Regions from separate parts of the Homo sapiens genome. Here region 2 is linked to region 1. The links come from fine-mapping of genetic effects on gene expression. A gene starts in region 1. The other region holds a variant in brackets. All regions are shown on one strand. Distances are between the middles of the regions.

Region 1 (5,368 bases):
ATGTTGTCAGCAGGACACAGACACTTCCCCCATCCCATGAGAAAGGCAACAGGACTGGCACTGTCTCCCATTCATCACCACAAGACCCTCCTCAGCTCTGATCAGAAACCCACACACTGGGACCAGCAGGCCAGCGTCCTTCCCTCAACGATCCTATTATCTACAAATGCAGGGCAGAAGTACAAGCAACTCCATTTGGAGCACAATTTATTAGTAACTAAATGCACTTTAGTTCAAGAAATAAAGTTTTCTAAAGAATTAAGGCGGTACACCGCTCTACAGGAGAAAAAAAACCCCACAATTATTGACTCCTTAAATCTTGTGGTTTTTTTTAAATGAAGAGTTAATATTTTCAACTATAATACTGGCCATAATTAAATAGGTTAGCAAGAGCCTGTGTTGGCATGGGTGTGAGGAACACGCATGCTGTTGATGGGGGGTGAACTGGTACAAACTTTCTGGCAACATCTACTGAAACTGAAACGCTGATGCACATTCCTCTAGACTCTGCTAGAGACCGAGCAGAAACATTCTTATCCCACCTTACAAAGGAGAACTAGATTCAGAACAGAGCAGTAATTTGTCCAAGGCCATGTGGCCAGTACATGGAAGCCAGGTGGTGACAAAAAACAAGCAAGCAGACGCCTAAAGAGTACCCACAGAAACAGGTATACCCTCTTCCTGATTCTGCTAGGGACTCACCCTCCAGATACATGCCACGAAAATGCCAAGATTCTTCACTGTGCCAAAACGTTTGTGTCAGAATAGCAAAGACCTGACAAATGAAGGGCACCAAAGCGGGGACAAGTTAAGTCAGCGACAATTCCTTCTCACAGAGGACACTGCCAAACCCAAGCTGTGGACAGAGACAGGGACTGTAGAGGCTGCCCAGGAGCGGCTCACGATGCACTTGGTAGGAGGAAGAGGGCTGCTTCACTGTGTGCAGAGGGAAAAGCGCCCTAACAGATAGTGCTGCCTGCTGGAGAGGGTGAGCCCCGCTACAGGAGACCAGAAACTGGCCGAGTCCACTCCCACTCCATATTCTCAGAGCCCCCTGCCTCCCTATCACACGCCCCACCCTAAGATGGGGACTCTTGCAAGAGCAGCTGCATCTCACCCCTCTTGTAGCTCCAGCGCCACTGGAGCATGCATTGCAGAAGGTGCCAATACCTGCTGACAGACAACAGAATCGAGTCCTGAGGGCGATGGGGGAGGACCCAGCTCCTGCTGGCCCAGGGTCAGCCATTGACTGGTACTAACTGAGCACCTGCTCTGCCCAGACATCCAAGCATCTGCTTGGATTCATTCTCTGCTCTCCACAGACGGGTCTCCTCAGACACGGGGGAGGCAAGGAAGGCTGCAAATGATTTAGGCACCTGTCTGGGCTGACTGGGAGCAGAGGTGCCAGGTGATAAGCCTGGAAACCAAGAGCCAAGGGCTCACCAGGACACACTCAAGTGGGGGAAGGGAGCACACCACCAAGCTATACTCCTGACCGCACACCAGTCCTTTCCAAATACATGACCCTCACAACAATCCTTTCTGGGCACGCAGTACTGCACTCCCATTTTGCAGAGGGGGAAACTAAGACTCACGGAGGGCCTCTACCCAAAGCCACATCACTAGCAAGGGGCACAGCCTGGATCCAAACCCTGGTGTATCCTCCCAGAAAGCAATTCCTGCAAACAACGCTATGGAGTCAGGGAACGGGAGAAGAGAAGCTGGGGAAGGACTGTCCAAGACTCCCGCTGCCCTGCCGCCTGGAGACCCTCGACCAGCCTGGTGGTCTAACCTACTCTCCCCCCAGTGGGAATGACACAGACCACTGAGGTCTCCGTCCAAGAGGAACACAGCAAGCCACAGCGAGGGGAAGGGCCCGAGAAGCGGGGCTGGACAGGAAGTGGGCCAGGGAAGTCATGCTAGCTGGTGGGAGCGCAATCCCGGCCATGAGGACACAGCGCTGGGCCTGGGGCAAGGGTACTGGGGGACCCATGCCAGGGGCAACCTCCACGTGCAACCCCGAGCCCCTACTCACTTAGGCCGCTGTCCACGACCTTTCCCCACCTCGGAGGCACTCATGAAAGAAGCAGAAACGCTCCGAAAGTAGCTGCGCCCAGAGAGGGGAAGTGCTTTCTCTGAAGGTGACAGAGCCGCAGCCACCCAGACCCAGGCCCACCCTCGGCCTCTCCCAGCGGGTCACCAGCATCCGTGGCCTCAGCTCCCGGCTCAGCCACTGCCCTCCCAACCCCACCCCACACTCAGACACACCCGGAACAGCGACCACCGCAAAGCATCAGCCCTTACGAAGCCCCGCCCCGCCGGGGCCGCCCAGGTCCGCACAGAAGCAGGCGGGCAGCTGCAGGAGGCGACAAGGCGCCCGGACCCCTGCATTAGCGGCGTCTGCAACGGCCGCGGCACCGGCCTGCTAGCCAAGGCCGGGCCCACTCCCACATACTGCCCGTGCCCCCTCCGCCCCGGCGGCCCACCCCTGCCGGCCCCCGCTTGGCAAGCTGACCTTGGCCGCCCTGGTGCCAGGGACGACGCCCACAGGCCCCGGCGCCGGGCGGGGGTCGCAGGGCAGGGCGGCTCGGCTCACCTCCTTGAGCTGCTCCATCTCGCTGCGGATAGCCTCATAGTCCACCTCGAGCTCCTCGAACTGCAGCTTGAGCTGGTGCTTCTCCTCGAGCACCGCCAGCCCGTACTCGGCCGCCTGGATCTTCTCACGCGTGGTCTCGGCCAGCTCGTGGGACAGCCGCTTCACCTCGGCGCGCAGCCACTCCGGCTGCGCCTCCATCACCAGCCGCGCGTACTCCTCCTCCTCCGACGGCGCCGACATGGTGGCCGAGGGCTGAGCCGGCTCCCACTGAGGCTCTCGCAGGCCGGGCCCTCCTCAGCCGCCGCCGCTGCCGCCGCCGCCGCCGCCCTGCCCCGACGGCCGCCCGCCCGCCCGCGCCGCCGCACGGCTCCTCCCCTCCGGCGCGCGGGGCCCGCTGGGGGCTGGAGTCCTGCCTGCGCTCCGACCACAAGGTCCATCATGCCCGGCGCCCGCCCGGCCCCCGGCTATGATTGGCCCATGCTCTGTGAGGGGCGGGCCCTCGGGCGCAGCCACTGACGCCAATGTGGCCCAGGGGGCTGTGGGGACAGTAGTCCCGCTAGCGCACCGACTACAAAACCCGTCCAGCCCCGCGCCCACCCGTCCCCGTCCGTGATTGGCCTGCGCCGCCAGCGTCGAGCCGGATGTACCGGCGCCTTGCAGTCCCCTGGACGGCGGTCGAGTGGGCGCGGCCCCGCGGCCTTCCCCACACTCAGAGCCGGGGACACTGCTCGGTCGCCGGGCCTCGCGCTCCCCTGTGCCTCTGGCAGCCGGCGGCCACGCGGGGTGGCAAGACGGCTGCCGGGAGAACCCCCAGGGGGAGGCGGGTGCGGGGCGGCAGGACTGGGCTCCCGACCGTGGGACGAACAACGCGGACAGAGCCCGGGAGGCCACGAGCTAGAAGCGCATCCGAGAGCGCGGGTGAACGGCTGCTGCTGGAAACCCGTGGACGGTGTGACGCATGCTCTGTGCAGACGTCTGGGGGCGGGAGGAGGACGGGCCAGCAGGGGGCGCCCAGGGGCCAGCGGGAACCTCAGCACCGCCCCTCAGTCCTTCAAGGTCTATTTCTTGGGAATAAAGACATTTCCATTAATACAGGGTCATAAACGTGGTAAATATAATTGTTGTCTCCGCATCTATTTTTAGGCCTGACTTAAGTTGTTTGAAAGCCAGTCGTACCCTTCGCCTTGGCGTAGGTAACACTTCTCCGTATATGGTGGTGTGTGAGATAACTCGTTTATTCTTTATCTCATTGACCTAAAGCGCAACACACCCCACAGCCGCTGACCGCCATAGCACCTAATGGCCAGTATCAGTGCAGATGAGTTCACCCTTCCCTCGTATTTTCTTTAGCCAGTCCACAGGCCCCAAGGGAAATCCTAAAGGATGATTTCCATGGACCCTAGCACAGCCATAGTCCCTTCCTTCCCACCGTCTCTCACTGCCCCTCTCCATCTGCTTGTCCGCCTCTCTTAGGCATCCCTAACCTCTCCGGAACCTAAGAATAATAAATTCCTTCTGTTTTGTACCTTTTAATTTTACTTTCTCATTGTATCTCACCTGAACCCCACACCCATTCGGTTCTCCTAGAGAGTGGCTATCTTGGCTTATGGTCACTCTCCCTCAAGACCAAATTAGAAAGAAGCCATGACAGCAGAAATCACAGCACACAGGGTACTGACACTATCTAATGCACAGTCCACACTCTAATTGCACGAGGGCCCAACACCATACTGGAGAGTTTCAGTATTGTTTTTGTGGTCCAGGATCCAGTTGCATTCAGTCGTCAGGTTTCCTGAGTCTCCTTTGATTGACCTTTCTGAGGAGTGCAGTGCACACTGGTATATGCTCATGGGGTGATGAGGTGATGCGTTTCTGGCAGGACTGTCACTGAGGTGTTGCTGAGTTTTCAGAGCACCAGCCGGGAGGTATGTGATGTCGATTTGCATTTCTCTGATTGATGCTGGGTTTTTCTTTGGTAATTAGTGTCATGAGTGAAGACTTTGCAACCATAGATATAGCCTATGACTCCTCAAACCTTGACCCACTGGTTTTGGCATTCATGACTACTTCTTGCCTGAAATAATTATTACCATACTGTCTGCTTTTTTTTTTTTTTTTTTTTTTTTTTTTTTGAGACAGAGTCTCGCTCTGTCCCCAGGCTGGAGGGCAGAGATGCAATTTCGGCTCACTGCAACCTCTGCTTCCCGGGTTCAAGTGATTCTGCCTCAGCCTCCCGAGTAGCTGGGACTACAGGCGCATGCCACCATGCCCAGCTAATTTTTTTTTTTTTTTTTTTTTTTTTAGTAGAGAGTGGGTTTCACCATGTTGGCCAGGATGGTCTCGATCTCTTGACCTCGTGATCTGCCTGCCTCGGCCTCCCAAAGTGTTAAGATTACAGGCGTGAGCGACCGCGACCAGCCATACTGGCTGCTTTTCTATTTCCATTAGTCCTTCTCCATTTATGAGTTGCCTTTGTACTGTGAGGCACCTATACCTTCTCATCTATTCCCTTCTCTCTCATTCATTAGCAGTATGGATCCATGGATTCTTATTTTACTCCGTGGGTTACAATCCATTACTTTCCTTACTTGCTTTGATGCTCAAATGGTAGCAGATTTGGCCCGTGGGAGCTCCTCCAAGCTGGCTCCATGTCTTCAAAACATCGTAATTTGTTATTATTGTTATTACTTCCTTGATGTCTGATGCAAATTGTTCCAAGATCATCTTGTGCTCTCCATGTCCCAGACCTGAAATCAGTCATTTCCCCAAGGA
Region 2 (5,368 bases), 29 kb before region 1:
AATATAAAATTGTTTAAAACCAATTATATAATAAAAATATTTAAATCAGCCAGAAGAAAAAGGATACATGACTCAAGAGGAGCAAAGATAAATGACAGCTGATTTCTCTAACAAGCCAGGAGATAGTGGAACAACATCTTTTAAACAACAAAACAAAAAAACTTAACTAGAATGCTATACTCACTGAAAACTGTTCACAAATAGAGGTGAAATACTTTAGAGATACAAAAGCTGAAAGAATTTATCAACAGCAGATATGCATTGGTATTTAAAGATATGCTAAATAAAATCCTTCAGGCAGAAGAAAAATAATACCATATGGAAATCTTTATCTACATGGAAGAAATGATAATTAAATAGGCAAATATAAAGTACTTATTTTTCTTATTTAAATCTCTTTAAAAGATAATTAACTTGAAATTCAATGCAATCCCTACCAAAATTCCAAAGCCTTTTTAGCAGAAATGGAAAAGGTGATTTTCAAATTCATATGGAATTGCAAAGGGCCTAGAAGAGCTAAAACAATATTGAAAGGGAATAACAACGTGAGAGAACTCACAATTTCAAAACTTAATACAAAGCTACAGTGATCAAAACAATGTGGTACTAGTGTAAAGATAGATACAGAGACCAACGGGATAGAATAGAGTCCAGAAATAAAACCTCATATATATGGTCAATTGATTTTTGGCAAGGGTACAAAAATAATTTGATGTCAAAGAATAGTTTTTCGGCCAGGCACGGTGGCTCATGCTTGTAATCCCAGCACTTTGGAAGGTCGAGGCGGGCAGATCACGAGGTCAGGAGTTCGAGACCAGCCTGGCCAACATAGTGAAACCTCGTCTCTACTAAAAATAAAAAAAAATTAGCTGGGCGTGGTGGCGGGTGCCTGTAATCCCAGCTTCTTGGGAGGCTGAGGCAGGAGAATGGTTTGAACCCAGGAGGCAGAGGTTGCAGTGAACCGAGATCACGCCACTGTATTCCAACCTGGACGACAGAGGAAAAAAAAAAAAGTTTTTCAACAAATGATGCTGGGGCAAGTAGATACATATATGCAAAATAATGAAGCTGAACCCCTACCTCACATTATACACAAAAATTAACTCAAAATGAATCAAATACCTAAATATAAGAACTAAAACTATAAAACTTTCAGAAGATAGGCTGGGTGCGGTGGCTCATGCTTGTAATCCCAGCACTTCGGGAGGCCGAGGCGGGCAGATCACGAGGTCAGGAGATCGAGACCATCCTGGCTAACACAGTGAAACCCCGTCTCTACTAAAAATACAAAAAATTAGCCAGGCGTGGCGGCGGGCGCCCGTAGTCCCAGCTACTGGGGAGGCTGAGGCAGGAGAATGGCGTGAACCCGGGAGGCGGAGCTTGCAGTGAGCTGAGATCGTGCCACTGCACTCCAGCCTGGGCAACAGAGCAAGACTCCGTCTTAAAAAAAAAAAAGCTCAAACCAGAGTTCCCAAGTATCTGTCATCAGGAGAAAGATAAACAGTGACTATGTAACTATTTACATAATACTATATAGAAATGAAAAATGAATAAACTACTGCTATACAGATAACAGAGATGAATCTAACAATGTTGAGTGAAAAAAGCCACACACAAAAGAGTATATGTTGTGCGATTCTGTTTATATATAAACTTCCATGAATAAGTGAAGTTAATCTATGCTGTTAGAAGTTAGCATAGTTGGCAGCTGGGCACAGTGGCTCATGCCTGTAATCCCAGCAATGTGGGAGGCCAAGGCAAGCAGATCACTTGAGGCCAGGAGTTCGAGACCATCCTGGCCAACATGGTGAAAACCCGTCTCTACTAAAAATACAAAAATTAGCCAGGTGTGGTGGCATGCACCTGTAATTCCCAAGCTACTTGGGAGGCTGATGCACAAGAATCCTTTGAACCTGGGAAGCGGAGGTTCCAGTGAGTCATGATCGCACCACTGTACTCCAGCCTGGGTGATAGAGCTAGACCCTGTCTCAAAAAAAAAAAAAAAAAAGAGAGAAGACAAAATCCACCTCCCCCACCCCCAACCCAGGACAGCTGGAGTTACTCCCTCCTCCCCCTCCCACAGGCTGTTTGCCCCATCTTGTCTCCTCAGGAGGAAGCACTGGTCCAGGAGTGCAATTAAGCACTAAGAAGAGCACTGGAGTTCACCATCTGATTAAGGGGTCGCCAGCCGTGGGCTTGTCCTTGCAGCTTCCTTCCCCTGCCTCACTGTGGGCCTCCTAGGCTGGTGCCCTGCAGGGTATGATCCCCTGCCCACCCACAGGAGGGCTCTCTGCCCAACCTACCATCAGGATCCAGTCTGGGAAGGGGATCCCAGATGTGCCCTCCATCCCACCCGTGCCCACAACTTCTCCAGCTGCTCTGGGGAACAAAAGGGACACACAGGTGGAAGGCCCAAGTTCCTACCCTCCTGGCCCATAAGACTAGGCTCATCTGGGCTTTGAGGAGGAAGCAGCACCTTGGTGATAACCCCCAAGGGGCTGCCCTGGCTATGGGCGAACACTGTGCTTGA[C/T]ACAAGCTCCCGGCTCACTCTCTACCCACTGCTCTGAAGCTGCCTAGGCCCAGCAGGATCTAACACACTGGGTGAGCCTGGGTGTGAGGTCACCACCAGCCAGGCGCCTTGGGGAGAATCCTTGCTTTTGGCCAACACATGACCGCCAAGAATGCTGTCTTCAGGTTTGTCCACACCCATGTGACTATAGCACAATCATCTGTGCCTAAGGGGAGCCAGGACCAGACACCATTAGGGAGGCCAGGTCCTGCACAGTGGCATGGCCTCGGGACAGGCTGCAGGACAGACGCTGGGTCTATCAAAAGTGGGGATGGGCGGGGTAAGCTCTGGCCAGGAGGGAGAAATCACAGGGGCTCAGGGAAGGGATTTCAAAAACCACATGGGGTGGGAAGGCCAGCCTCATCTGAGGGAATAGCACGAGCAATGACATGGGGGCAGGAGGTCCCAGGGACTCTCTGTGAAGCATTAGGAGCCACCCTGAGGTCAGTGGGGAGTTTGAAGACAATGGAGAGGGCTTGGGGAGGAAGGGCAGCTGCAACCAGACCCCAGGGCTTTGTCAAGCAGAGGACGAAATGGGGAGTTGAGGGCAAGTCGGGGCAGGGAGGGGCAGGCCTGGGGGCCTGTGAAGCAAACAGCACCTGACCTCTGCGAGTGCCTCATCTCTGTTATCTCCCTGTCCTCATCCACGAGCATGGCAGAAACAGTAATGGCCTGCTGTTCACGGGCACACAGCACACTGGGTCTGGAGTCACTGGGACCTTGCTCACTCAGGCCCTAAGTCTCATTCTAAGAGTCCCATGGGGACAAGAGGCTGCCGGTCCCTGTCAGGGCAGTGCAGGCTCTGGGTGGCCCCTCTTCATTCACCGTAAGGGCTCAGGTGAACTGCCCACATCCAGACTCCATCCTTAAAGGACAGCAGCACCCATTAGCTGTGGAACTGATCATGTGACTCTGTCAGAGGCGTTTGAACCAGAACAACTCCATCTTGAATAGGGACTGGGTAAAATGAGGCTGAGATCTACTGGGCTACATTCCAGGAAGACAGGCATTCTTAGTCACAGGATGTGATAGGAGGTTGGCACAAGATACAGGTCATAAAGACATAAAACAGGCTGCAGTAATTACTGATAAAACACTAACTGCTGATAAAACAGGTTGCAGTAATTACTACAAACCCACCAAAACCCAACAAAACCAAGATGGCAAGGAGAGTGATCTCCGGTTGTCCTCACTGCTCATTATATGCTAATTATAATACATTAGCATGTTAAAAGACACTCCCATCAGGACCATGACAGTTTACAGATGCCATGGCCCTGTGATGGCCCCAGTTTACAGATGCCACAGCCCGAGGTACCCACTGTGTAATGTCTGGAAGTTACCTACATGGTCTAAAAAATGGGAGGGACCCTCAGCTCTGGGAACTGTACACCCCTTTCCCAGAAAACTTGTGAATAATCCATCCCTTGTTTAGCATATAATCAAGAAATAACTATAAGTATCCTTAAGCCAGCAGCTCAAGTCACTGTTCTGCCTATGGAGTAGCAATTCTTTATTCCTTTACTTTCTTAATAAACTTGCTTTCGCTTTACTCTATGGACTCGCCTTGAATTCTTTCTTGCGTGAGATTCAAGAACCCTCTCTTGGGATCTGGATCAGCACCACTTTCCAGTAATATCTTCAGCTGCCTCGAACTGAGCACACCCTGTGTGTTAGATTGTTTTAGCAGCTCCATGACCGGAGCCCTGAACATGTTCCCCCTTTACACACACACACAGAGAAACTGAGGCACAACAGAGCTCAATGCTTGCCAAGGGTGCACAGTCTGGCTGTAGCGTGGGATGGTGCAGGGCTGGAGACAGAAGGCTGGCAGAATAGGCCTCAGGATGGAAAACAGGGCAGTAAGGATCCTGTCCAACAGATGAGCCCAGTGCCCCACCCCACCCAAACCCCTAGGAGATAGAGAAGGCAGGCCAGGTCCCAGGGGTACCTGTGAGCACGGGCCCATCTGTGCCCACCACCCCCATCTCAGGGAAGCACAGCCAACATCCCCTGCTAGCACCTCTGAAATAAGCTGCAGGGGCAGGGCTATGTGACTGTGGTGGGCGCCAATCACAATGTGCCTCGATTTCCTCATGTGAAACCTGGGTTAATAATGTCACCAATCTGAGCTTAGTGCTATGGGGATTTAGTCAGTTAACATAATTCACTTACCAGAGCCTATGTGGCCTCCTACTCCACCCACCCCCTGACGATAGGAGCTTTAAAATACAGGTTCAGGGAGTTACTCCTTGTTCTCCTCTCCAGGCATCCCACTGCCTTTCGGATGCCCAAGAAGGAGGCAACTCCTCCAGAGTCAGCATATCTCTGACTCAGGATGTGGTTGAGGCTATTGTCAATGGACCAGTGTTAACATGCTGAGATCCTGACAACCCCAGTGTGGGGCAGCGCGTGGGAGACTGGGTGGCTTTAGAATGAGCCCATACCAGACGCTTAGGCCCTCATCACCCCAAATAGAGGCTGAGATCCAGAAACAGAAGCTGGACGATGAAGGAAGAGTAAAAGATTACGACCAACAACAGGTTACAGTTACCTTTGCGGTTTTCATTCTTTCCTGACGCCAGTACCAGCAAAGCTCCCAGTTATCACCTGGGCACACCCACCACCTTAGAACAACTCTTCAAGTGTTACTTTCTGTGAAAGTAAAACTATACATATAGGCTGGAAGGGCTGAAACCCTGACCTGTGCCTAGTGCAGAGGAGGAAACAGTGGCAGGTGATCAGAGCCTGGGAGGATGGGGAAGTGCGCCAGGTGGAAGGAACAGCAAAGCAAAAGGT

What was found. PIP is the estimated chance that this variant, and not a neighbour inherited with it, causes the effect. A credible set is the group of variants that fine-mapping cannot tell apart.
Region 2: its variant is the best candidate, but not a certain one, in a credible set for the expression of BICD2 in whole blood (INTERVAL, PIP 0.81).

What each region holds. Positions count from the first base shown.
Region 1 is chr9:92,761,909-92,767,276 of GRCh38, forward strand. It overlaps BICD2 (BICD cargo adaptor 2), which reads right to left and starts at 2,925. Exons shown (of 7, transcript NM_001003800.2): 1 at 2,597-2,925. The coding sequence starts at 2,836. RefSeq lists an enhancer at 893-1,052 and silencers at 2,876-3,615, 4,468-4,517.
Region 2 is chr9:92,732,524-92,737,891 of GRCh38, forward strand. The region is part of intron 1 of BICD2 (BICD cargo adaptor 2); the gene reads right to left. Among named protein-coding and RNA genes, the nearest start is that of BICD2, 30 kb to the right of the region's middle. RefSeq lists an enhancer at 2,225-2,824. The variant C/T (reference allele first, on the strand shown) is at 2,531.